Linked DNA regions of Homo sapiens. The protein of the gene in region 5 purifies or fractionates together with the protein of the main gene of each other region. This does not show direct contact. Each region holds a gene or a part of one and is shown on either strand. Other genes may lie near its edges. The genes, in order: IBTK, HK2, SERPINB9, SERPINI2, PRKCE, ATIC and AKAP12.

Region 1 (3,500 bases), on a different chromosome or scaffold from region 5:
TCTCAAACTCCTGACCTCAGGAGATCTGCCCACCTCAGCCTCCCAAAGTGCTGGGATTACAGGCGTGAGCCACCGCGCCCGGCCCCTTCATTATTTTTAAACAGGAAACACGATACACACCCCTCCTCTCTTCCCACCCTACAACGAAGGTTTAACTGCCACAAGCAACATAAATACCTTAAAAAAAGAAAGAATTTCAAATAATCTGATTCATAATATGATACTATGGTGTTAGGCAATTTACATATGACAAAACCATATCAACAATATGAGGCAAATATTATCTTTCCCATTTCTTATATTGAGAAACTGAAGTAAGAAGGATCGCTTGAGCCCAGGAGTTCGAGAAACTGAGGTAAAAGAAAATTGTCCCAGCCAGGAATAGTAAAGCTAAGAGATATGTATGTCTAACTTGAAAGACCTTTCCAGCATACCACATTGCCTGCCACTCCAGATCCCTGTTACATACACAAACCAGAGTTCAAACCCACCAACAGCTTTCCTATCCATTAATGTAATCCAAGAAGTCCCAGAGATAGCTCTGCCCGCAAATGGAGGAAAGACATATCCATGTACCTCCCCAAAAAAAGGATGGGTAGGGAGAAAGGGAGAGAGAGGAAGAGGAGGGGAAGGAGAAAGAGAAGGGGATGGAACAAGTGGGAGGAGACTTGGGGAGGGGAAAGAAAAGCAAAGCAAGGCAAAAAGGGTGGGATTTTTTTTTTTTTCTTTGAGACACAGTCTCGCTCTGTCGCCCAGGCTGGAATGCAGTGGCGCAATCTCGGCTCACTGCAAGCTCCGCCTCCCGGGTTCAGGCCATTCTCCTGCCTCAGCCTCCTGAGTAGCTGGGACTACAGGCGCCCGCCACCACACCCGGCTAATTTTTTGTATTTTTAGTAGAGATGGGGTTTCACAGTAAGGGTGGGAAATTTTTTAAAGGAGGACTGAATGAGGTACAGGAACAGATATAAAAGAGAAATCATACCTACTACTCAAATTACTGAAGTCGAATTTCTTTGCAACAGTTTGCAACATTCTTACAGGATCATCTTCCCTAATATTTTTTCCTTTTTTACAAGATTTAGGTTTGCTCTTCTGCCTCTCACTAACTGTTTGAGCTTGATTACTTTTGTAAACTTCAAATGCAGACTTCTGGTTATCATCTTCATGGAAATTCACTTTATTCAAATGAGAATTCAGAGTTCCCTGATATTCTTCTGGGTTTTTGTTTAAGTGTATTCTTGGTTTGAAGCCATGAGTTAAAAAGTCACAAGTATCTGTGTATATAAATTGTAAAAGGTATTCAAACATGTCAGGATGAACCTTCTCTACCACAAAGAGATGGCACCCTGCAGAATCTTCATCTTTCTGGTAAATATCTGTAAATTCTGAAGTATTACCATCTGAAAGAAACAATTTCTGAAAAAAATCAGAATGCACTGCCAAAATATATTTATGTGCAGGGAAGAGTCTATTGCCAACTTGAAATGTCACATCATGAATGCTGTCCATTTCATCTGCTTCCCTCAACAGTTTGCCAAACTCTTCAAAAAAGGATGATGAGGACACAGCTGGAATTTCATAAAGGCTAGAAAGAAGACAAAAACAAATTATGCTTCAAAAAATATGAAGGAAATCCTTTTTCATACCTAGCCAATTCTCCTTTAAAATGCAATTTTTTTAACAATATTTAGAAAATTTTAAATTTGGCATTTCCTAAAATACAAGAATATTGCACAAAGTCCTAGATGCTATATCATCCTTTAATTTTTTTCTATTCCTTTTTATATTTATATTCTATTCTTCTCTCAAATTAAAATGATAAGAACTAAGTTGTCCGTATCCCTGGTTCTTACAGTACTGTGGGAATGCAATTACACCTTCCCAACCAACATTTCACCCTTCTCAGTAGGAAGACCAACCCTCCTGTGGTTTGCCTTGGACTGACGAGTTTCTCAGATGAGACTTTCAATGTTAAAACTGGGGCAGGCCTGGGCAAACCAGGATGGATGATGACCCTACTTGCAGAATTTCCTCCCTCTTCAACAGTACCCTTGATGTTTATCTTAATCTGATACCTCTCTGCTTATGTGACTTAGGAGATTTGCATTGCGATTTACAGATGGCGCCACAACACTTATTTTGCCAATTCTCATCATATTCAAGGGTCAGAAATCTTTGCAAACTGCCTAAGAAATATTTATAATACATTTTTCAGAATCTGAGAACCCAGGGTACATCATACAGTATGAAAGACAAATAAGGCAGGGTGCGGTGGCTCATGCCTGTAATCCTAGCACTTTGGGAGGCCGAGGCTGGCGGATCACCTGAGGTCAGGTGGTCAAGACCAGCCTGGCCAACAGGGCAAAACCCCATCTCTACTAAAAATACAAAAATTAGCTGGGTGTGGTGGCGGGCACCTGTAATCCCAACTACTTGGGAGGCTGAGGCAAGAGAACTGCTTCATCCTGGGAGGTGGAGGTTAGAGTGAGCCGAGATTTTGCCACTTAGCCTGGGCAATAGAGCAAGACTCCATCTCAAAAAAAAAAAAAAAAAAAAGAAAGACAATAAACTTTGTGAGTGCATGTATAGATATTTTCAATATTTTCAATAAATGTCAGTTTATAAACCAAAGGAAACATTCATCACTCCAAGTATAACAAATTCTACCTCTGGATTATCTGTAGACATAATCTGTAAACATGATTATGTCTAAGGTCTCTATAGGTCTTGGCAACAGCTCTTCAATTAAATTTGCACCAGCAGCTACTGAAAACAAGAAAATTCAGTGATTGTTCCTTCTAAAAAATGAAATTTAATATATACAAGTATACCTTGTTTTAGGATCTGACTGCAGGATTGCAAAGTTGCATCCACTTGGATCTGTGCTGACACTAACAGCTCTATGTGCAAAGGTAAGTTTCTCAAGTCGAATTCTTTCATACACACTATTTATATCAGAGACATAAGACACATCTGATGAGGAATTGTGAAGGTTTGATAAAATCTCTGTTAAAAAAAAATAAACTACCATTAATCAAGGCTTTACTGAAACTACTAAAATGATTGAGAAGTAAATGGAATAGAAAAGGAGTTAGAAAAATATGGAAATCTTTTTCACATATATTCAGTGTTTTTGAAGAACTACATCCTCTCTTCAACACATTTTCCACTGAATATATTGGCTGTATTATACAGGAAATTTTTGGTGGATGGATTCTCAATTATCCATGATTCCATCTCTTTCAACAAACACATCCTCCATACTGCAACCAAAGTTCCCTTTCTAAAAAGCAAATCTAGTGTCATACTAGCTTTTAAAACTTTTCAACTTATACTTCCTGTTGCCCAAAGGGAAAAAAATTCTTCAACTTGGATTAAAAATATATAAATCTACTGTCTTCATAATCTGCTTGTTTATTTGCTTCCTCCCTTTCTCTTCCCCCTTTCTTGCATGTATTCAGAAAATATGTGCGTAACCAAACTGGGCTACTATGATATCA
Region 2 (3,500 bases), about 29 Mb from region 5:
AAATTTATTTTCCAGTGTTCCTTTTTGGAAACCAACAACACATCTTTAATACCTACACACACACACATCTCTACCTTTAAAAAAAAAAAAAAAAGTGTAACTTCACAGATAGTACCTAATCTTCAAGCTTAAAATTTAAGTTAAAATTAATCTCTATTTTGTGGGCACCCTTTAGTGAACTAAAATCTACATGAAACCTTTTGGCTTTTGTGTAGCAGGAAATACCCACGTTTTGGGTCAATTAGTGCAGATGGGAGCAGCAGAGGAGCTACACCAGACAGCAAAGCAAGACTAGAGCAAACGAGAAGGACCAGCCCCTAGCCCCTCTGTGCTCCCGGGAGGACCTGGGCTGTTTTCACCTAATTACACCCAACTTTGCTTAAAAGTCGTATAATCAGACACTATTCTCAGCACAAGTTTGATAAATATACAAAAACCAGGTTCAATTTCATCGTGAGTTTCTTTCCATTCTGATCCTTGTATCCAATTCAATAGTTACATCCCTCTTTATCATATAGTATCCAGGTTTAATGTCTGTGCTTGTTTGTATTTTAGGACAGAGGCGGGCTTTCAGATTCAGAATCAACTGCACTCTTGAAAAGTAGGGATGGAAGTTTTTAAGCCACTCTCATCCCTCCCAATAGTTTGAAATAAATGTTGTGTATAAAAAAAAGAAAAACACAAAAACAGGTCAGCAGACCAATGCCAGCTCAGCCTAGGGAAGCACATGGACAATTCTTGTAAAACATTTAAAATACAAACCCAAGGTGAAACTTGCTGGGAGGGCTCAAATACACCAAAAATGTTGTCCCTGAGGTTTTATTTGGCTGTTTAATTGTTCTGTTTTGGTTTGTTGTTGAGGATTAGATACAATTTAAAAAAAGAAATTTTGGTGACTTCCTTTATCTTGTCAGAAAGCTTTAGAATACTACTGACTGCCCTAAGAATAAAGATTTCTAAGCCATGAGTCCATTTGAAACGATTCCTTTGGTTTCCTTTGCTTAACATCCCATGGAATACTGCCAAGAAAATCTCTAGATGGAGGAGCCAATTGCTGTGGTCTCTTCAGTCTATTGGCTCGGCCTCCATCTCTGTCCCTGCCTTCCACACACTTCCAAGACCACAGGGGAAGGAGGAGCCAGAAGCAACCGCTTTGCCATTCACTCACCCTGAAGAGGCTTCCCTTCTCTTCCCACAGGCGAATGAGGTATTTCTATGACTAGTCAGTATCTTCCCCTTCTGCCCTTTAACTACACTGAGGCCAATTCTGACAAGACTTGCACATCTATATACATAACAAATTAACATATAAATACATTACGTACAACTGACCATTCATTACATGTCAAGATGAAGAAGCAGATCTACTCAAGAACTAAATAAAATTTCAAATATAAATTAAAATGAAAATACAGTGATTCCACTTTTGCAGGAAAAATTTGTAAAACAAACTAAAAACTCCCCCTTCCCCAAAGGTCCATTGCTTGTGGATAACATGTGCGCCCCGCTGAGATGCGACAGCTGGCCCAACTGCAGGATGCGTCAACTCCTGGCTTTGGTTTCATTGCCCAGACTCAGGATTCCTTGATTCCAGGAATGGCAAATGCTGGAATCCACAGGGCAAATGCTTGTAGATGAGGTTAAAGAGGGGCTGCTGCGTGGATATCCATGGATTTTCCTCCACTGTCACCCCTCCACCCTCCCCACGTCTGCCTATAGGATAATCAGGCTCACATCCTCAGTGGAGACCTCCCAGATCTCTGACAGGAGAATCAGTAACAACATCAGTGCTGGGGGATGCACCCCACTTAGAAATGTCATGTTCAGGCTCCAAGGTGAAGCAACCGTATCTTCATTAGTGTCCCCATCCTGTAGAATTATACAGGGACATGGAATTTGGCAAGGGGGATTACTAAGGGAGATAATTTTCATGTTTTAGGAGAACCAATGGGAATGGTTATGATGCATGTGAACAAATCCTTATTTGGAACTCTATTTATCTTAATAGGGCCAAGCTCAGCCACCAAGCTCTACAATGAGATGCAGAGACAAAACCCAGTCCAGTGGGGTCCTCTCTGCCAAGCAAAAGCCAAGGGGTCTGTCTCTGACACAAGGGGATGACATCTTATAATTTAAAACAGGGAAGAAGGAGAGAAAGAGGAAGTCCCTTCCGATTTCAGGGGTTCTATCGCTGTCCAGCCTCACGGATGCGGCAGGCCACAGCAGTGATGAGCGCCGCCCCCTTCCCGCTGCCATCCTCTGACTGCAGGAAAGACACATCACATTTCGGAGCCAGGTCCTTCACTGTCTCATGCATGACTTTGGCAAAGCTGGAAAAGGTGGGAGGAAGACACAGGAAAAACCATCTTAGTCATGATTGGTTTGTATTTGCACTTAGAAATGAAAGCTAAGAAGCGATGCTGGAAACACAGAAATAATTAAGAAGAGGAGAAGGATGACAGCTATAATGTATTAAACATTTACTATATATTATTAAGTACCAGAAAACCGTGGCTTGGAGACACTAGTACTATGCCCAATTTCCACATCATATCAGCCATTAGGAGAGCTAGGATTCAATTCTGGGACAAACGTCTGAGATCCTGGCAAACTGTGTTCTTAAAACTAATAGTCAGTAAAAGAGAAGTTCAACAACCATGGAAGCCACAAGTGTGCCTAACAGAGGAGCACAACTCTGGAGGGGGAGACCAGGACCAGGACTCATGAATGTGATTTTCTATTTTCCTGGCGCATAGCCTCATATCAGAGCCACATGTGCTCCAAAATGTCATCGGAGGCAAAAGAAGCAGACTTACAGAGTCACTGCTAGGATATCACAGTGATCACAGATCCTTCCTATATGGACCAGAGAAAGAGAGAGTTGTGATCTGCCCCAATACAGCAGGGTCAGGACACCCTCCCCATCTACAAAGCTGAGGATGCCATGTCCCAGGGTTGGTGGCTGGGCTTCTGCCCCCTCCCAATCCTCATGAAACTATATGTACAATAACAGCCTGTGGCTGTTGCCTGTCAACCCCTGCTCTAGAATGTTGAAAAAAAATCTTGCTCCAGAGTTCTAGCATTACATTTGCCAGAATGTTCACAGTAGCACTGTTTGTAATGGTCAAAATCTAGAAGTAACCTAAATATCACCTCAACGATAGAAAAAACAACATACTCAAAGGTACGCTATACAGCTCTGAAAATTAATGAACTACCAACTGTATACTTCAATGCGGATGCGTCTCAAAACAAACACTGTGTGAGAAAAGCCAGCCACAGAAGAGATACCATGTGATTCTATTTGTGGCAAGTTCAAAAATAAGTAAAACTAAACAATATGGATGCATACCTACATATATGGGGGTGGAAAAGAAAAGCAAGGGACTGATTCAGCACAACACTTACCCCTGGCATGGGAGAATGATGACACAGTTGTGGAGGGGCTCGGAGGGGGCTTCCCACGGTGGGGGGTGAAACACAGGCCTACTTCTGATTAT
Region 3 (3,270 bases), on a different chromosome or scaffold from region 5:
GAAATAGCCATAACAAGAAAAAAAAGATATGTAGGACTTATATTGAAAAAAACTCAAAAAAAAAGTTTTAATAAAAGTAGTATAGAAAAGGGCTTGAATAAATGGAGACTCTTCTCATTTTCCTTAATGAGATGACTAAACATTGTAAATACATCAATTTACTCAAGTAATTTATATGCTTAATGTCATGCTAATCCTTCCTCCCAAAAAATTGAAAGTTAAAAAAATTACTTTGGGTATTAAAAAATTATTCTAAAGTTCACCAGAAGAATAAAGATGGAAAAATAGATTTACAATATCCAGAAATTGGCTAATAAATAAAATTATGCTTTCTCCTGAATGTCAATAATACAAAATCAAATTCCATGTGAATTAGTTAAATCATTACAAAAATAAAAGTTTAGAGAAAAAACTATTTTATTTTACTACTTTATGAATGGAAAAGTACTTCTAAGAATGGAAGTGGTGTCGGAAATCACAAAGGGAAAATCTAGATTTGATTATAGAGGAAAACAAAACACTGTTTATTAATGAAACATCATAACAAAATTTAAAAGGCAATACAAGAATGAGAGAAAATATAAAACAGAGGGATAATATCTTTAATAGGCAAAGACATATGTAAAAACGAAGCAGAAAAGTAGGTGTATGAATGACAATTCATAGATGAGGAAATTCAAGAGCCAATAAATGCATAGAACACTTTCACCACTAATAAAAGAAATGCAATAAGTATCTGCATATGATACATAATGTTGCAGATGTTTGTAATTTACATAAAAGATACTGAACTAGGGCTGGGCTCAGTGGCTTATGCCTGTAATCCTAGCACTTTGGGAGGCTGAGGTAGGCGGATCGCTTGAGGCCAGGAGTTCAAGACCAACACGGCCAATGTGGCGAAACCCCGTCTCTACTGAAAAATACAAAATTAGCTGGGTGTGATGGTGGGTGCTTGTAGTCTCAGCTACTTGGGAGGCTGAAGCAAGAGAATTGCTTGAATCCAGGAGGAGGAGGTTGCAGTGAGCCCAGATCATGCCACTACACTCCAGCCTGGGTGACAGAGTGAGGCACTGTCTCAAAAAAAAAAAAAAAAAAAAAAAAGATACTGAACTAGGCACTTGACATCCAAGATGTCCACTTGGCCCTTTTCTAAGTGTACTTCACTTTGTTTTCATTCCTCCTCTAAAGCTTTTTAACAAACTGTCACTCGTGTTCTAAAAACAAACAAATGTCTTTCATCTCATTTTTTACTCAGCATTATCTATCAAAGGGACTGGATGTCCCATCTAGTTTGTACTTTAGTTTCTAGCTCATTACATAGGAAATGCAAATAAAAAACACAATGAGATACCACTTCACACCCACTAAGATGGCCATAACTTATTTTTTTTAAAAAAAGGAAAAGGAAAATAATAAGTGTTGGTGAGGAAGTGGACAGAAATTGGAATTCTCATACATTGCTGGTGGGAATGTGGAATGGTTCAACTGCTGTGGAAAACAGTTTGTCTGTTCCTCAAAAAGCTAAACATAGAATTAACATATGACCCAGCAGTTCCACTCCTAGATATATACCCAAGAGAATGCAAAATAGGCATTCAAACAAATACAGGTACACAAACATTCATAGCAGCACTATTCCCAATAGCCAAAAGTCAGAAACAACCCAAAGTCCATCAATGAATGAGTGGATAAATAAATTGTGCTATAAACACATAATACAATTTTATTTGGCCATAAAAATGAAGTGTTGATACATGCTACTATGTAAATAAATCTCAAAAACTTGTACTAAGTGAAAGAAGCCAGACACAAAAGGTCTCATACAATTCAATTTATATAAAATAGCAAGAATAGATAAATCCATAGAGACAGAAAGCAGATTGGTGGTTGCTGGGGGCTGGAGGAAGGAAGGAATGGAGAGTATCTGCTTAATGGGATGGGGTTTCCTTTTAGAGGAGAACATTTTTTTTGGAACTTTAAATAAAGGTGGTGGTTATGCAACATTGTTAACAATACTAAGTGGCACTGAACTTCTCACTTTAAAATAGTTAATTTTATGTTATGTGAAGTTTACCTCAATAAAAAAATTCTTAAAAAAAAAAACTCAGTGATATCCAACCATTAAAAAATATAAGTTACATAGCTCGTATATAATCAACTTACTTATTACTGCACTATGAGGGGCACCCAGATATGTAAGACAGAGTCCCAACCTTTGGTTGTTGGAGGACTATCTAAGGATACAGAGATTAATAAAAATAAAAGAACTACCACGAAAGAAGTGCCCTCCAAGTACAAAGAGAGTTCAAATATGTACATCTGGTTGCGGAGAAAGGAAAAACTTCTCAAAGAAGAATTTGAAGTGAGCTTTAAGGGTTGAATGGAATTTTTACTGTTAGAGGTAGAGAAATACAATATCATAAAGAAAGATGTGATCCCTACAAGAGGATTACGTGGTAAGTTGAAAGACATTAAACAGTCCAACCTGGTCATTGTCAAAACTATATACGTTGGGCACAGAACTGAAGACCAGGTGTCAAAGGAGGATGGCTCTGTCCCCTTTGTGTCCCCAGTGCCTAAAGCAGTGTTTGGTGCATGCTTGGTGATTGGTAAATGTCAAAGAAAAAGATAAAAGATAAAATATAGCCGGGCGCGGTGGCTCAAGCCTGTAATCCCAGCACTTTGGGAGGCCGAGGCGGGTGGATCACGAGGTCAGGAGATCGACACCATCCTGGCTAACACGGTGAAACCCCGTCTCTACTAAAAATACAAAAAATTAGCCGGGCGTGGTGGCGGGCGCCTGTAGTCCCAGCTACTCGGGAGGCTGAGGCAGGAGAATGGCGTGAACCCGGGAGGCGGAGCTTGCAGTGAGCCGAGATCGAGCCACTGCACTCCAGCCTGGGCGACAGAGAGCCAGACTGCGTCTCAGAAAAAAAAAAAAAAAAAAGATAAAATATAAATGTACATTTTACAACCTTTTTTATAAGGCTAAGCACCAGGAAATCTATAAAATAGTAGCAATATCTAGCACCATTTATTACCACTGAGGCAGCGGGTTAAGGAATGTATTCGCAGTGTCAGGAAAGCACAGGGTCGCCAGAGTGAATTGCATGTGGAATTCTAGAAGAACTTTGCTTGCCATCCTATGGGATTTGGACTGCAATTTTAATACAACAGGGAATCATTATGGTCTATTTTCTCAAGATTCTGATTAAGTAGCATAAGCGAGTGTGGAGCATCATGAATTCATGCTGGCAAATCATGAGGGCA
Region 4 (4,003 bases), on a different chromosome or scaffold from region 5:
TATTGCACAACTCTTTTTGGAAAATTATCTCTGTGTTAAGTTAAAGCTACACTAGAGTGTGCTTATGATAGAGTAGGTAATATTAGAATAAAACTCAAGATCTAGAAAACATTTGGAGATGCCTATATGGGAAATCAAAAAATTTTAGTTAATTAGTAGATTATGGCCTATAATGATCTATTCTCAGGCCTATTTTTAAGTTATAGCCATGTTAGGACATGGAAAGATGTTAACAGGGTCCTCTGACAAGTTTTTAAAAATGAATTCCATTTAAAGCTATCTATATTCACTTTATTTCTTTTACATGAGTTTATCAGAAATAGTATTAAATTTGGGGATCAACAGATATTTAATTAAAAGTGAACTAAATTTTTTTTCTCTTCTCAAAGGCTATAGATAAATAATACAATGTGCTTAATATCTGATTGCCATTGAGGTGATTGATTTGAACTACAAAAATGAGATGAAACCCATTAAATTATGCAATTTTTTATTAATGACCTTTTTGCAAAGAAAATCATGTAGAGTTTCAAAAGCACATAAAGGTAACAGCAATTTTTATCATCCAATTACCTATGGCTAATAGTATTGTCCTGATATATTTTGGCAAATCCATTATCTTTTTTGCTGGCCTTTCTGCTCAGAATAAAGAACATATTTCTTCAATATCCACTCTTTTTCTTAAGGATTCAAATGGACCTTATATCCACAGGAAACTCCTCTGACTATTGTATAATTTGATGAATGTTGAGAACTCTGTCAATGCAGCAGTGATTTGTCTCTGTATTCTGGACTTGATTTAGCTTTATTCTTTTTCTCATAGGCATTCTGAAATATTTATGACAAAGTGCATTGGTAATCTGATGTAGGAGTCCTGTGAGAAACAAAAAGAACTAATTACTAGCAAATTTACAACCAGTAGCGCATCCTTTCAAATTCTGTGCAACTTTTAAAAGAAGCAAAATAATGGATAAAATAATAATATAAATTTAATACTTTTAAAAAATTCTATAATTGTTTTTTTCTCAATTCTTGCACATTTCATCAGTTGATCATTAACCCGATTGTGTTAGTTCTTAATACAAATGTAGTGAACACCTGCTTTTGTTCTAGAGGAATTAATCAAGCAATGGTCAAGATAAATGGAGTTGGCCTTGATCGCTCAGGTGTTTATGTACAAGAGTTTTCCAGCAAGCGTATTTTAGTTGTAACATTCCAGTGAATAATCAGAAGTCAGTTTGGGGTAAGTACCTTAGAAATAAATAGCTTTTGAATAAGTATGTATGCAATAACATTGCCTATGAATGTTTAGTAGAGTATGGAATGGCATTTCAATTTACTTTGGTGTAAAAATCATTTGAATTTATTTAATTAACATATCGCTTTTATTCTCCTTAAATGATTTCACCACAAATCAGAAGATCCAGTTCTTATAGGACTATTCATCAGGTTGTTTAGTTCAGCATTACTTTGTGCTTTCTGATAAGATATGATCCAAAACCTGATGAGGTAAGTGAGTTTTTAAAACCAATATTTGTCTGAGGTTATAATTTATTAAGTGCTTAGAAATTTTCTAGAAAAAATGGATGTGGATGCTCAAATAATATAAATTTAATTATTAAGATTATTAATAATAATGAGAAGGAAACTCTAATACTGAGATTCTACCACAAAGAAAAAAATTACATTTTTAATAATACTGTTCATTATTCCAATATAAACCAAATACATAAAGCTATATCTAATGTATTTCCAGTTGATAACTTAAAGGTACTAATAACATTTTGACTACGTATCTACAAACACATATTTTGGTCAGAAGTCTTCTGAGAAATTGAATATATTAGAAGATAATGATACACAGACATTTATTTTGCATGTAAAACTTCTCTTACTCACTGGTTTTTAACTATTGTTGCACTCTCATTTATAAGCTCATATGCTAAATTAATCCCTAATGAAACATTTGCTTGATATTAATAGCATATAGGTCTATATCTAAAGTTTACCAACACATTTTCTAACAATTGCTTTGGATTGTTTTTTGAGGCTTTTGTCTTTTGCAAATATATATCTAAACAAATACAGTTTAACAAAATACATTGAAGGATAAATAATGACTCCATAGTTTAATTTGGAACAATATTTGACTATTAGTAATCTTTATATATAAATATAGTTGTTCTTAGGGACTCCTACCATTTATGGTACCCTTAATGATCTGCAAAACACTCTAGAAATGTAAGTCTCTACTTAAGGCTGACAACAGACTATTCTAAAGGCTTTCATCTTTACCCCTAATTAAGGGTTACTTCCTAGTAACTTACTGATGGATAAGTTTTTAAGGATTACTAACATGTATTATTTATAAGGTAAAATTATTGTTACTAAAATTTATGAGGCCTTGGAGTCAACATTCTACCAAATATGTGGTAATATTGCAAAACTAATTCTGCTTGAGATATAATCAAATGGTTGAATTTCCTGCAATTTTAGTGGAGAGCACTTTAATAGGGTATTATTAGTCTTGTGAATTGTTTATGGTTTTTAATTGCTGCTACTCTTACATTTGTTAGTATTTCTGTCAATTCTTTGATATTATATTTCATTTTATTTATATTTTTTCTTTTATAATTTCAAGTTTTATTACAGATTAATGTACATGTGCAGGTTTGCTACATGGGTATATGGCCTGACACTAAGGTTTGGGGTATAAATGATCTCATCACCCAGGTAGTGAGCATAGTACTTTATTGTATCATTTATATTTGATTGCCATTTTGTTTCAAACTTTGCAGGTTTTCTGCATTGTATTTGTCTTCTTTTGGAAAAGCAGGAAGAGGGCTTTGGGTTATTTTGTCCTAAGAAATAAAGCGTGAGGAAAATTGTAAAAAGTTAGCCAGATTACTCAGTTGCTTTAGAATACATTAATTTTCTAATATTATAGGTCTAAAACCACACTGGAGTAAGTCTGTTTTTATTCCATTTCTTCCTCTTGATCTATAAATTACTGTAGAGTAGACAGCACAGAAGGTTTACCTGATGTCAGAGTTACAGTTATCCCACTTAACCATGAGAAAAGATAGAAAAAAACTATTGTATAACTATTTGGAGATACCATTGCCATTGATAACATTCCAACATTGTAGTGTCTTTTTTGATTTTTGCTACAAAACTACAAGTATATTTTCTACTGGTTCTTGAAGATATGTAAGAAATACCATTAACACATGAACTATTTTTCTGAATAGATGATACTTAGAAATCTAATTGGATAGAGTTCACTTGTGGTAGTAAGTTCTATTAAGATAGAAAGCTACAACAGGTAGAAAGTTTTCTGTTGAGCTCTCTGTGGAAAACTCTATTTTGAAAATGAATATATTTTGATTTAAACAATACAGAGAAGTCAAAATGGACACAATCTTCTTGTGGAGTCTTCTATTGCTGTTTTTTGGAAGTCAAGCCTCAAGATGCTCAGCTCAAAAAAATACCGAATTTGCAGTGGATCTTTATCAAGAGGTTTCCTTATCTCATAAGGACAACATTATATTTTCACCCCTTGGAATAACTTTGGTTCTTGAGATGGTACAACTGGGAGCCAAAGGAAAAGCACAGCAGCAGATAAGACAAACTTTAAAACAACAGGAAACCTCAGCTGGTGAGACTCTTACATCTCCTTACTTATACTGGATAAGATATGGACGCATTCATTTTTTAATATTAGAAGTTCAGGATAAAGAAATTTTAATAAGTGAAAATGTAATGAAAAGTACAAAATTGTAATAAAATGGAGAATTGTAAATGTAATTTTCATTCATTTATAATTAATTCCTTTAAAAGGTTACAAAAATTATTAAGAAATTGACATCTATATAAATGTAAAATTAAGTAAATATTTGTACATTTTCTTTTAGTTTGTTTTAGCCAGTTTTAATTACTTGAGATTATACTGGGCGTGCATGTGTGTGTGTGTATGTACATACTCATAAAATATACATCTATA
Region 5 (3,500 bases):
AAACAGAACATTTATTACATGCCAGAAAGATCAGTTAAATAACATTTACCTTCCAAAGTAATGCATGCTAAATTTGCTTTAAACCCTAGGTTTGCTGAGGGCAGAGATTCATTCTCAAAGTCTTCATAACAAATTAAAAACAGAATTTCAGCTGATCTCTGAAGGAGGGAAGACATGTATTGACACTACTATTGATTTGGAACACTGAGCATTTAAAACTTTCCAAAGTGCTTTCTCATCTACCATCTCACTTGATTCCTGTCCCCATTCAACAAATGAGAAAAATTGAATTCCAAAGAGATTAAATCACTACTTGAAAGTCTCATATAGCCAATTAATAGCAGAACCAGCGCTCCTATCTACTTGGCCTCAGGTCATTTGCACTTACAAAAAAGGAAAGAAAACCTAACGAGATCAGGCTGAAAGGTTCCTCTCTCAATCTTAGATCAAACAGACGAAACAATGCTAAGGAGTAGAACAAAACCAGCAGTTCCACCCGTGTGTGCCACAGACCTTGCCAAAGCTGCCTTTGCCCAACACCTTGATGAAGTTGAACTCATCCAGGCCCAGGCGCTTGGCCTGGCCTTGCCGGACTTCGCCATTCTCACCGGGGCTCATCAGCTGGCCATCAGGAGACGATGCTGCCCGGTGCTCCTCTCCTCGGTTGTCAAATGACAAGGCTTTCCGAATGTTGTTCTCAAGTTCTTTTATTTCTAGGGCCAAGGGGAACAAGAAATTGCATTAGTGCATACCTCTTAAGCCTGTTACATTAGGACTCAACACTCAGACTTTCCCCTGTAAGCTCTCAGTCCTCTTTCTGGTTCTTCACAACAGATCCAGTGTGACATCCCTTTGTATGTTCCTTCATCTGTTCACCACACTCTTATTGGCACCTAATGCGCAGCAGAGCTTAGGTATGCAAAGAGGAGGAGGACACAGTCCCTTCCCTGCCCTTGTCAACTCCAGATTACACTGGACCTGGCTGTCTCTCTGAAAGCCCCCTTTGGCTAGTAGCCTATTCCACTGTTCTAGGTAAAGCACACAAATCTGGGCCCTCTCTGGAATTCTGCAGAGTCACAGGTATCCTTCAAGTTTCCTCTGAAGATGAGAACAACGAATCAAGAACTGTCATCACAGTAATCACTGGTGATATAATTATTTCAACAACTGAGCCATCAGAACGGTGGCTGATCACTGAAGGTAGAAACCTTCATACCTTCTAAAAACCTTTACTCAGCCTTGTTGCCGGGTTTCTTCTAAATACCCATCTTACACAAGGTTATCTAACAAAATGAGCAATGGGCTTATTATTAACAAAAGAATTGCTTTCCCAAGTGACATGTTGCAAACTTATCTCCAATGGGGCGGGAATTTCTCAGTACAATTTCTCAACTACGAGACAGTCTTGTGCCCCGCTCTAGAGCTTATGACCTGAATTACCTGGGGGAGATAATGCTGGATGATCCTCTGACCTTTTCTATTTGAAGAAGCTTTACTGTTAGCAACTCATTCATCAAGACACGCACTCTTCTGTGTGGAAATGGGCATCTTGAGCAAAATCCGATTTTAAATGATGCTTGTGAATAACTTGGATTATGGAAGGGGAACATAGCCTATTAACCCTTGGGAATGAGAATTAGGCATGAGTGACAGAAAGAGATCTTCAGCTTCTTTTCAGAAGGACAGAGTCCCATAAGGGCTTACTCAAGGAATCCGGAGATCTTTCCTAGATCTGGAGTTTGGCTCCTCTGAGACGTGTTGGGGAGGGTGAAGACGGGGAAAGCTGCTGAGTCTGCAGACACTCCCCTTGCCAGTTCAGCAGTTATCCACCTATCACTTAGCTTGACTAAATAACTTTTAATCTCACAATAGAGCTAAAAGCCTCAGTTATTAAATGAATTTTGGAAGGCAAAACATAGTTGTTTGGGGACAGCAAAGCTTGAAGAAAAGGTTTTTCTATGTGTCTTTACAAGGGAAGAAAAAGAAACTATGTCTTATTTCTGTTCTGTAATAATGTCGCTCAGAGGGACATCTGTGCTAACATCACTACTGGGAAATCCTGGCGTCTGTGTCAAGTGGGATGAACAGAGGCCCTGGGGCCGCTGTATCCTGCCACTGTATCCATCCAATGGCAGAGCTCAGAGCCAGAGAGCATGCAGGGCAGGAGCCAGGCCTACAAACCCTGGTCTCTGAACTCTTACCTGGGGTCTCTTTTCTATATGACCCTGTCTCCCTGAAGCTCCCAAAGGGGATCTCAGCCTCAGAAAGGAACACGTGAAAACCCCCAAACTGGTCTGGGAAAATAGCTACAAGTTCTGCAGCCCCAGAGTACATCAGGCTACTTATGAATGCTTCAAATCTCATTTGGAATGAGGTAGAGTATAAAGACACAGAAAGTTAATTGGAGTAGCACGAAGAGGGACTGAGACCAATTATTCTGTGGCCTCAGGGCTGGTGCATGACCCCCGAAGCTCTTTTATTTACTCCTGGGTAAGAAGGTCTGGGTCATGGTGGTGACCTCCAAGGAAGGTTTGATGGCAGGGTTTCTGAGAGTGTGTCCCTCAGCCAGCATGGGTACAGTCTTGCCCTTACCACTGACTTATCTCCAAACCTTGGGACAGAACTTTTCCACACTCTGACCTCCCACTTCCCACTCACTAACCTGGGGGACAGTAATGAAGCACCAACATAGAGTGGGTATGGGCATAAAATTAGGATAATGAATACAAAAAGGGATATAGAAAAACCAAGGCACCATTGTCAGGCTGTGATGGTTATTCCTCTTCTGCAGATGCATATGTCCCTTACCAGGCATATCTGATAATGGTCACGAGAGCAGGAGGTTTTGCAAGTGTAAGTCCCTCCTCAGCCTCATCATTCTCGGATGGCTGCAGAATTATTATTGTGCAAATTATGTCTGCAGAACTTATTGTCTGAAGCACAGTCGGACAGAAGGAGATATCTGGAGCTGTAGAGGGGAAACAGGCCTAGGACTGGCCTCCTTCCCACTTCTTTTCTCAGTCTCTCCTCTAGCTTCATCTTTCTATCCTCACCCACCCAAAGGCCAGGATAGAAGACATCCTCCCTCACCCAGCCCCAAACTCAAGCTGATCTCAGGTTTTGGGTATGATGATGGGGGAGGGAGTGTCAAACTCAACTCAAGGGAGTGGTGTTGACAGGTCTAGGGCCAGGCAAGAGCTTTAAGAGAGGGAGCTGTACCCTTCTCTCTGCAGTACACTTGGAACCAGGGACAGAGGCAAGGGAAAACAGATAACCATAACATCATACACTCGCTCTCCTCTTACCCTGGCCTGGAAGGAAATTAAGGCAGATATGGCCATGGAGTGCCCAGCCCTCAAGAAGGTCTTGGAGAATGAAAGAACTGTTAAATCAACAGGCAACGGGTGTGTGAAAACCCACCAGGGCTGCTAGCTATTTCAGCTAACAAGCTCACTCTTGGTTAAAGAGGCCTCAGAGCTCCTTGGTCCATCCAATGGCAG
Region 6 (3,500 bases), about 170 Mb from region 5:
TGTGGTGGCGGGCACCTGTAACCCCAGCTACTCATGAGACTGAGGCAGAATCGCTTGAATCCGGGAGGTGGAGGTTGCAGTGAGCCAAGATGACGCCACTGTGCTCCAGCCTGGGCGAGAGTAAGACTCCGTCTCAAAAAAAAGAAAAAACTTGTGATGATCAAAGGAAACCATCAAGAAAGGCTAACACAATCCATAGAATGAGAGGAAATAAACTTACAACTCAATAATAAACAGATAAATACCTCAACTAAAAATGGACAAGAGGTCTCAACAGACATTTCTCCAAAGGAGGTAAACAACTGGCTAGGAAGCACATCCAACGGTGTTCCACATTATTTGGAAAGCAAATTATAACCACAATGAGATGCCACTTCAGAACCCCTAGAATGACTAGAATCAAAAAGACAGATAGTAACGTTGATGAGGATGTGGAGAAACTGGAGCCCCATCCAGCACACTGCTGCTGGAAATGTAAAATGGTGCAGCACTCTGAAATACAGGGTCGCAGTTCCTCAAAAGCTAAACATAGTTACCATATGACCAAGGAATTCCACTCCTAGGTATATACCCCAATGAAACGAATGTGTATGTCCACACAAAAACTTATACACAAATATTTATAGCTGCATTATTCATAATATTCAAAAAGTAGAAACAACCCAAATGTCCATCAACAAATGAACTGATAAACAACAGGGTATGACCACACAATGGATTATTTTTCAGCACTAAAAACGAAATGAACTATTGATACTATGCTATAACATGGATAAACCTTGAAAACATGCTAAGTGAAAGAAGCCAGGAACAAAAAAACCATATATTGTTAGATTCTATTTATATGAAAATGTCCACTACAGGCAAATCAGACACGTAACAATTGGTGGTTGCCGAGGCTGGAGGACGTTGGGGAAATGGAGAATAAATGCGTATGGGTATAGGGTTTAGGGTGGGGGTGATGAATATGTTTTAATATTGGATGTGGCAATTAATATGGTTTGGATGTGTGTCCTCTCCAAATCTCATTTTGCAATGTGATCCCCAATGTTGGAGGTGGGGCCTGGTGGGAGATGATTGGGTCACGGGGGAGATCCCTTATGAATGGCTTGGTGCCCTCCCCATAATGAGTCCTCACTCTGAGTTCATGTAGAGCTGGTTGTTTAACAGAGCCGGGCAGGCCGGGCGTGGTGGCTCACACCTAATCCCAGCACTTTGGGAGGCCGGGGTGGGTGCATCATTTGAGGTCAGGAGTTCCAAGAGCAGCCTGACCAACATGGTGAAACCCCATCTCTACTAAAAATAGTAAAAATGAGTTGGGCGTGGTGACAAACGCCTGTAATCTCAGCTACTCAGGAGGCTGAGGCAGGAGAATCACTTGAACACAGGAGGCAGAGGTTGCAGTGAGCCAAGGTCATGCCACTGAACTCCAACCTGAGCAACAGAGCGAGACCCTGTCTCAAAATAAAATTAAATTAAATTAAGAATAAAAGTTAAAAAGTAAAAGAGCTGGGCAACTCCTCCTCTCCCTCTCTCTTGCTTCTTCTCTCATGGGATATGCCAGCTCCCCCTCTGCTTTCCACTGTGATTATAAACTTCCTGAGGCCCTCACCAGAAGTTGATGCTGGCACCACACTTCTTGTACTGTCTATAGAATCACGAGCCAAAATAAACCTGTTTTCATAAATTACCCAGCTTCTAGTATTCCTTTATAGCAATGCAGAACAGACTAACACAGTAATGGTTGCACAACTTCTGTGAACCACTGATTTGTACATTTTAAATTGGTGAGTTGTATGGTATGTGGATTAGATCTCAATAAAGCTGTTACGTATATTTAAGAGAAACAGCCAGTATCTTTATGCAAATAACTCAGTTAGTTGTGCAAGTTGATAATTCCTAATATGAAAACCTGAAATCTGAAATGCTCCAAAATCTGAAACTTTTTGAGCGTCAACATGACACTTGGAGGAAATGCTCACTGAAGCATTTCGGATTTCTGAGGGACGCTCAACTGGCATGTTACCTGCAAATATTCCAAAATCTGAAGAAATCTGAAATCCAAGACACTTCTGGGTCCCAAGCATTTCAGATAAGGGATACTCAACCTATACATACTAAGATTTAGATTGTAACTTCCTAAAAAACTTCAGTATGTATTTTGGTATATAAATCTGGCCAAACCAAAATGCTTACACACATACAAAGTCACACAGAAGGTACGCAGTAAAGGTTTATAGTGAGTAAGAAAACACAGGGACACCAGGTTTGGCATAGTCTTTGTCGTTGGTTCGTAATGTGTTAAAAGTTTAATTTCAGGTTTTTACCTTATAAGATTGAAATCAAGTCTGGCCATGTCAGCATTATCTTCTGGAATATTACGAGCTAGGATTCCTAATTTAAAAAAGTTAAACAAAGTCATTAGCTTCAAAAAACAAGTCAGATTAAGGAATGTCTTTCAACATAGTGTCTTCAATCAAATTAAATCCCATTGATTAAAAAAAAAATTTATTTTTTTGAGATGGTCTCACTCTATCGCCCAGGCTGGATTGTAGTGGCGTAATCACAACTCACTATAGCCCTGACCTCCAGGGCTCAAGTGATCCTCCTACCTCAGCCTCCCAAGTAGCTGGGACTACAGGAATGCATCACCACACCCAGCTGGTCTTTTCAATTTTTTAAAGAGAAGGGGGGTGTTGCCATCTTGCCCAGGGTGATCTTAAACTCCTGGGCTCAAGCGGTTCTCCTGTCTCAGCTCTCCAAGTGCTGGGACTACAGGCAAGAGCCACCATGCCCAGCATAATATTCTTAATTAAAGAATATCAAACATGTAGTTGGGGAGTTATCAAACAAAAAAATTAGGATTAACAGATATATCTGGCTGGCCACAGTGGCTCATGTCTGTAATACCAGCACTTTGGGAGGCTAAGGTGGGGGATCGCTTGAGCCCAGGTGTTCGAGACCAGCCTGGGCAACAAGGTGAGACCCCGTCTCTATAAAAAATACAAAAATTAGCTGGGTGTGGTGGCACATGCCTATAGTCCCAGCTACTTGGGAGGCTGAGGTGGGAGAACTGCTTGAGCCTGGGAAGCAGACAGAGGCTGCAGCGAGCCATGATCGCACCACTGCACTCCAGCCTGGGCAAGAGTATAATCCTGTCTCAAAAAAAAAAAAGAGAGATATATTTAAAAATCTTTTTCTTCAGTTCTTGATCCCAGTTTCTTGAGCAATAAAATGTAAAAAAGGTAAAAGGAATTTTACAAAACTGTTGCTAGTTCCAGAACAGTCTATGCGTTTCTGTAAGTCAATGGCTTGTCTGATGATCTGTAGCCATTCAGCTTTATTCACCAAATTGTACCACAACTGACAAACTAGGAGGATACCAGTTTCTTGCCGTTTCGGTTTATATACAATTCATTCTTAGGTGAACGAACAAATGTAAAGCACTTTGAAAAAAAAAATTCCTTTGCAAGTCAGTTACGCTGTGATGCTTTCTTCTA
Region 7 (3,500 bases), on a different chromosome or scaffold from region 5:
CTGCTGAGTCCAAAGTTTGTTGCAAGTGCTGTGTGCCTTCCAGTTCCTGGAGGGGCGGCTTACCCTCTGTGACAATGACTTCTTCTTCCTCCTGGCTGTTTAGGGCTCCTTGACCGTTCAGGGCTCCTTTCTGGCCATTTAGGTCACCCTCCTGGAGGCTGAGCTCATCTTGCTCAGCTACGCCATTGATGGTGGACAGCTGACCATTCTTCTGTAGGAGCTATGGAAAAGACAAAGCCATAGAAACTTAATTTCAGTCCTCATGACCAAGTCAGAAACAAGGCATTAACTTCCAGAATACAAACCAGTGAAAGAAGAAATACAGAGAAAAGGAAGTTCAAAAACAATGAAGAGTTAAGTCTTATATTTGTCTGAAAGATCCAGCTACCTTACAAGCAGATAGGGCCTTGTATCTGGGTAAGTGTGCCCATCAGCCATTCATCCACTCATTAATTCATTCATTGGAACACCAGATACATACATTCACCTTTCCAGACCTATTTCAAATATAACCATGAAAAAATCAGATGTGTTTCCCAGAGCTTTGAGCTTACAAATTACTATGGAAGGCAGACTTAAAAACCTCTTTTTTACTTTAAAATAATAAATAATGTTTCCTTGTGATTAGATGCAGGTTAAGCATAATTGACTGAACAAGTCAGAAGGCAGACTTTTAAACAAATAATTACTAAACTGCAGCTGTGGAAACTGTCATGAAGGAGGCATACATAGAACAAATAACAATAAACAGAGCCCTTGAGAATGAATCAAGTAGGTTTTAAAAAAAAAAAAAAAAACAGCCCTGACTGAGGCTGGGGGTGTCCAGGACTTCTCTGAGGAAGCAATGGTAAAGCTGAGATCTCATTTCCACAGGCAAGGGCTGTGTAAGAAAAGGATAAACGGGGTGCAGAGAAGGGAGGCCGCTTGGCGCGAAGGCCAGTGCTCCCAGAGCCCAGCAAGCAAACAAGACACATATAACATGTCCATTTGGGTCATTGTTTTTTCCTTAAAAATATTACTACAATGGTCATTTGCAATCCTCCCCATAGGATGCCCTGTGCAACTGATGGCATCAGTTTCAAAATCAGCAGGCATGGCCGGGCGTGGTGGCTCATGTTTGTAATCCCAGCACTTTGGGAGGCCGAGGCGGGCAGATCACGAGGAGTTCAAGACCAGCCTGGCCAACATAGTGAAACCCCGTCTCTACTAATAATACAAAAAAATTAGCCAGGCATGGTGGTGCATGCCTGTAGTCCCAGCTACCTGGGAGGCTGCAGAAGGAGAATCACTTGAACCTGGAGGTGGATGTGGGAGGTGGAGGTTACAGCGAGCAGAGATTGAGCCACAGCACTCCAGCCTGGGTGACGGAGCGAGAAAAACAAAAAACAAAAATGAAAAAACCCACAAAATCAGCAGGCATGTAGGCATGCCCTTGGTCATATAATCCTTTTTTTTTTTTTTTTTTTTTTTTTTTTTTTGAGATGGAGTGTCACTGTTTCACCCAGGCTGAAGTGCAGTGGCGTGATCTCGGTTCACTGCAACCTCCAGTTCCCAGGTTCAAGTGATCTTCCTGCCTCAGCCTCCCACATAGCAGGGATTACAGGCGTGCACCACCATGCCTGGCTAATTTTTGTATTTTTAGTAGAGACGTGGTTTGCCATGTTGGCCAGGCTGGTCTCAGACTCCTGACCTCAAGTGATCCACCCACCTCTGCCTCCCAAAGTGCTAGGATTACAGGTGTGAGCCACTGTGCCCGGCTTGCTCTTGGTCGTATTTTTAATCCTGAGAATATAGGTAAAAAAATTTTAAGCCAATAGAAACAATAACCATTAGGAACCTAAATGTTTCAACAATGTAATATACAGCAATGTTATATATACAGATATCTCATTTATCTTAAAACCAACATAGGCAGCTGCTATTATTTCCATTTTATAATAATGACACCGGGACTCAAAGCAATTCTGGTGGGGTGGGGTTGTCTTGCCCCAGGTCACACAGCTCAGGAATGGGGGCATCATGGCCCGAAGCCAACTCTTGCCACCAACTATTTCCAGCGTTTTTCTGTTTGAGGCTCTCAACATAAAGATAGGTGCCATGTTTTGAAGGTCCTGTTACTACACACAATTATAAAGATAGGTGCCATGTTTTGAAGGTCCTGTTACTACACACAATTACAAAGATACGTGCCATGCTTTGAAGGTCCTGTTACTACACACAATTATAAAATGACTTAAAGGGTATTCCAGGTCTGGAACCGGTCTGGAAAAGGTCTGGTACAGACCTGCATGCTACAAAGCAATCTCAACTCTGCACTCCATCTGACATCATTCCATCCTGCTTCCAGGCCAATGAATGACTCTGGACTCACCACTGACTTAGACCCTGAACGCTGAAGGGACAGTGGGTTCAAGACACGCAATCCAGAAGCCTTAAGTTGTGCTAAATTGATTTCACCTGGCTGTTCTCGGCTCCCAGCAAGGCTGTCCTTCAACTGCATGAGCTTCCTCCTGAAATAATACCACTGTAGTTTAATACTTACACTACAGATGGGATTGTTGGCTTCAAAATGCCCATGCTGAGTCCATTTATTAAACAGAATACTCAGATTACATTTCCACTTAAAGTCTTCTCTTACCAAAATATGAAAGATGGGCATTTTAAATGAAACCTAAAGACAAAAGCAGGGGGTAGGGAATGGAGAAGGGGGCAGTGTGTCTCCACAAAGCCCATCTGCAAAAATGTCAGAGTATTTCTTTTTTTTATTTTTATTTTTGAGATGGATTTTCGCTCTTGTCCCCCAGGTAGTCCAATGGCATGATCTTGGCTCACTGCAACATCCGCCTTTTGGGTTCAAGTGATTCTTCTGCCTCAGCCTCCCGAGTAGCTGGGATTACAGGTGCCTGCCACTGCGCCCAGCTAATTTTTGTATTTTTAGTAGAGACGGGATTTCGTGTTGGCCAGGCTGGTCTCCAACTCCTGATCTCAGCTGATCCGCCCGCCTCAGCCTCCCAAAGTGCTGGGATTACAGGCATGAGCCACTGCGCCCAGCCAAATGTCAGAGTATTCTAACTAAATATCATTGAGTATGTACACAGGACTTAGATTTGATTAGTAACAGGAAGAAAAGTTGGGGGAGGAAAGCAGGAATCACATATTATCGTGGGCTACATGGTAACCCAGTGAATCTTAAACCTAGAAACTGTTGACATACACAGTTTCATGATATGGCAAACTAAACAGGGAACATAAAAAAGCCATCTTAATACCTCAATTTCAATGCAATAAACTTCGGTCAATTGTGCCTCTTATTTAGGAACCAGAACTCTGAAGTTCTATAGAGTTTAGGGTTCTACCAAGTACCTAAAATTATTGAAAAAATTCTTATAATCCTCTGTGAATTGCCCAATCCAAGGTATCTTTAGTTGGAGCCAAACTGAGTCTCTTTAAACATGAAGACTATAGCACACAGGCACAAATTTCCGTCTACTCTTTTAGAA

What was found.
Region 1: the proteins of PRKCE (region 5) and IBTK purify together in Homo sapiens (affinity purification with western blotting, with the first as the bait; one study listed by BioGRID). This does not show direct contact.
Region 2: the proteins of PRKCE (region 5) and HK2 purify together in Homo sapiens (affinity purification with western blotting, with the first as the bait; one study listed by BioGRID). This does not show direct contact.
Region 3: the proteins of PRKCE (region 5) and SERPINB9 purify together in Homo sapiens (affinity purification with mass spectrometry; one large-scale study listed by BioGRID and IntAct). This does not show direct contact.
Region 4: the proteins of PRKCE (region 5) and SERPINI2 purify together in Homo sapiens (affinity purification with mass spectrometry; one large-scale study listed by BioGRID and IntAct). This does not show direct contact.
Region 6: the proteins of PRKCE (region 5) and ATIC purify together in Homo sapiens (affinity purification with mass spectrometry; one large-scale study listed by BioGRID and IntAct). This does not show direct contact.
Region 7: the proteins of PRKCE (region 5) and AKAP12 purify together in Homo sapiens (affinity purification with mass spectrometry; one large-scale study listed by BioGRID and IntAct). This does not show direct contact.

The regions. Positions count from the first base shown.
Region 1 is NC_000006.12:82,213,245-82,216,744, forward strand, and holds part of IBTK (inhibitor of Bruton tyrosine kinase), read right to left. Parts: intron 3,007-3,500; coding exon 2,832-3,006; intron 1,586-2,831; coding exon 983-1,585; intron 1-982. UniProt on the Homo sapiens protein: Acts as an inhibitor of BTK tyrosine kinase activity, thereby playing a role in B-cell development. Down-regulates BTK kinase activity, leading to interference with BTK-mediated calcium mobilization and NF-kappa-B-driven transcription.
Region 2 is NC_000002.12:74,889,627-74,893,126, reverse strand, and holds part of HK2 (hexokinase-2), read right to left. Parts: intron 2,331-3,500; coding exon 2,186-2,330; 3' UTR 1-2,185. UniProt on the Homo sapiens protein: Catalyzes the phosphorylation of hexose, such as D-glucose and D-fructose, to hexose 6-phosphate (D-glucose 6-phosphate and D-fructose 6-phosphate, respectively).
Region 3 is NC_000006.12:2,886,770-2,890,039, forward strand, and holds the end of SERPINB9 (serpin B9), read right to left. Parts: 3' UTR 501-3,270; downstream 1-500. UniProt on the Homo sapiens protein: Granzyme B inhibitor.
Region 4 is NC_000003.12:167,471,243-167,475,245, reverse strand, and holds the start of SERPINI2 (serpin I2 precursor), read left to right. Parts: upstream 1-1,203; 5' UTR 1,204-1,243; intron 1,244-1,418; exon of another isoform or gene 1,419-1,509; intron 1,510-3,401; 5' UTR 3,402-3,411; coding exon 3,412-3,658; intron 3,659-4,003.
Region 5 is NC_000002.12:46,004,675-46,008,174, reverse strand, and holds part of PRKCE (protein kinase C epsilon type), read right to left. Parts: intron 714-3,500; coding exon 514-713; intron 1-513.
Region 6 is NC_000002.12:215,318,559-215,322,058, reverse strand, and holds part of ATIC (bifunctional purine biosynthesis protein ATIC), read right to left. Parts: intron 2,395-3,500; coding exon 2,328-2,394; intron 1-2,327. UniProt on the Homo sapiens protein: Bifunctional enzyme that catalyzes the last two steps of purine biosynthesis.
Region 7 is NC_000006.12:151,302,467-151,305,966, reverse strand, and holds part of AKAP12 (A-kinase anchor protein 12), read right to left. Parts: intron 221-3,500; coding exon 64-220; intron 1-63. UniProt on the Homo sapiens protein: Anchoring protein that mediates the subcellular compartmentation of protein kinase A (PKA) and protein kinase C (PKC).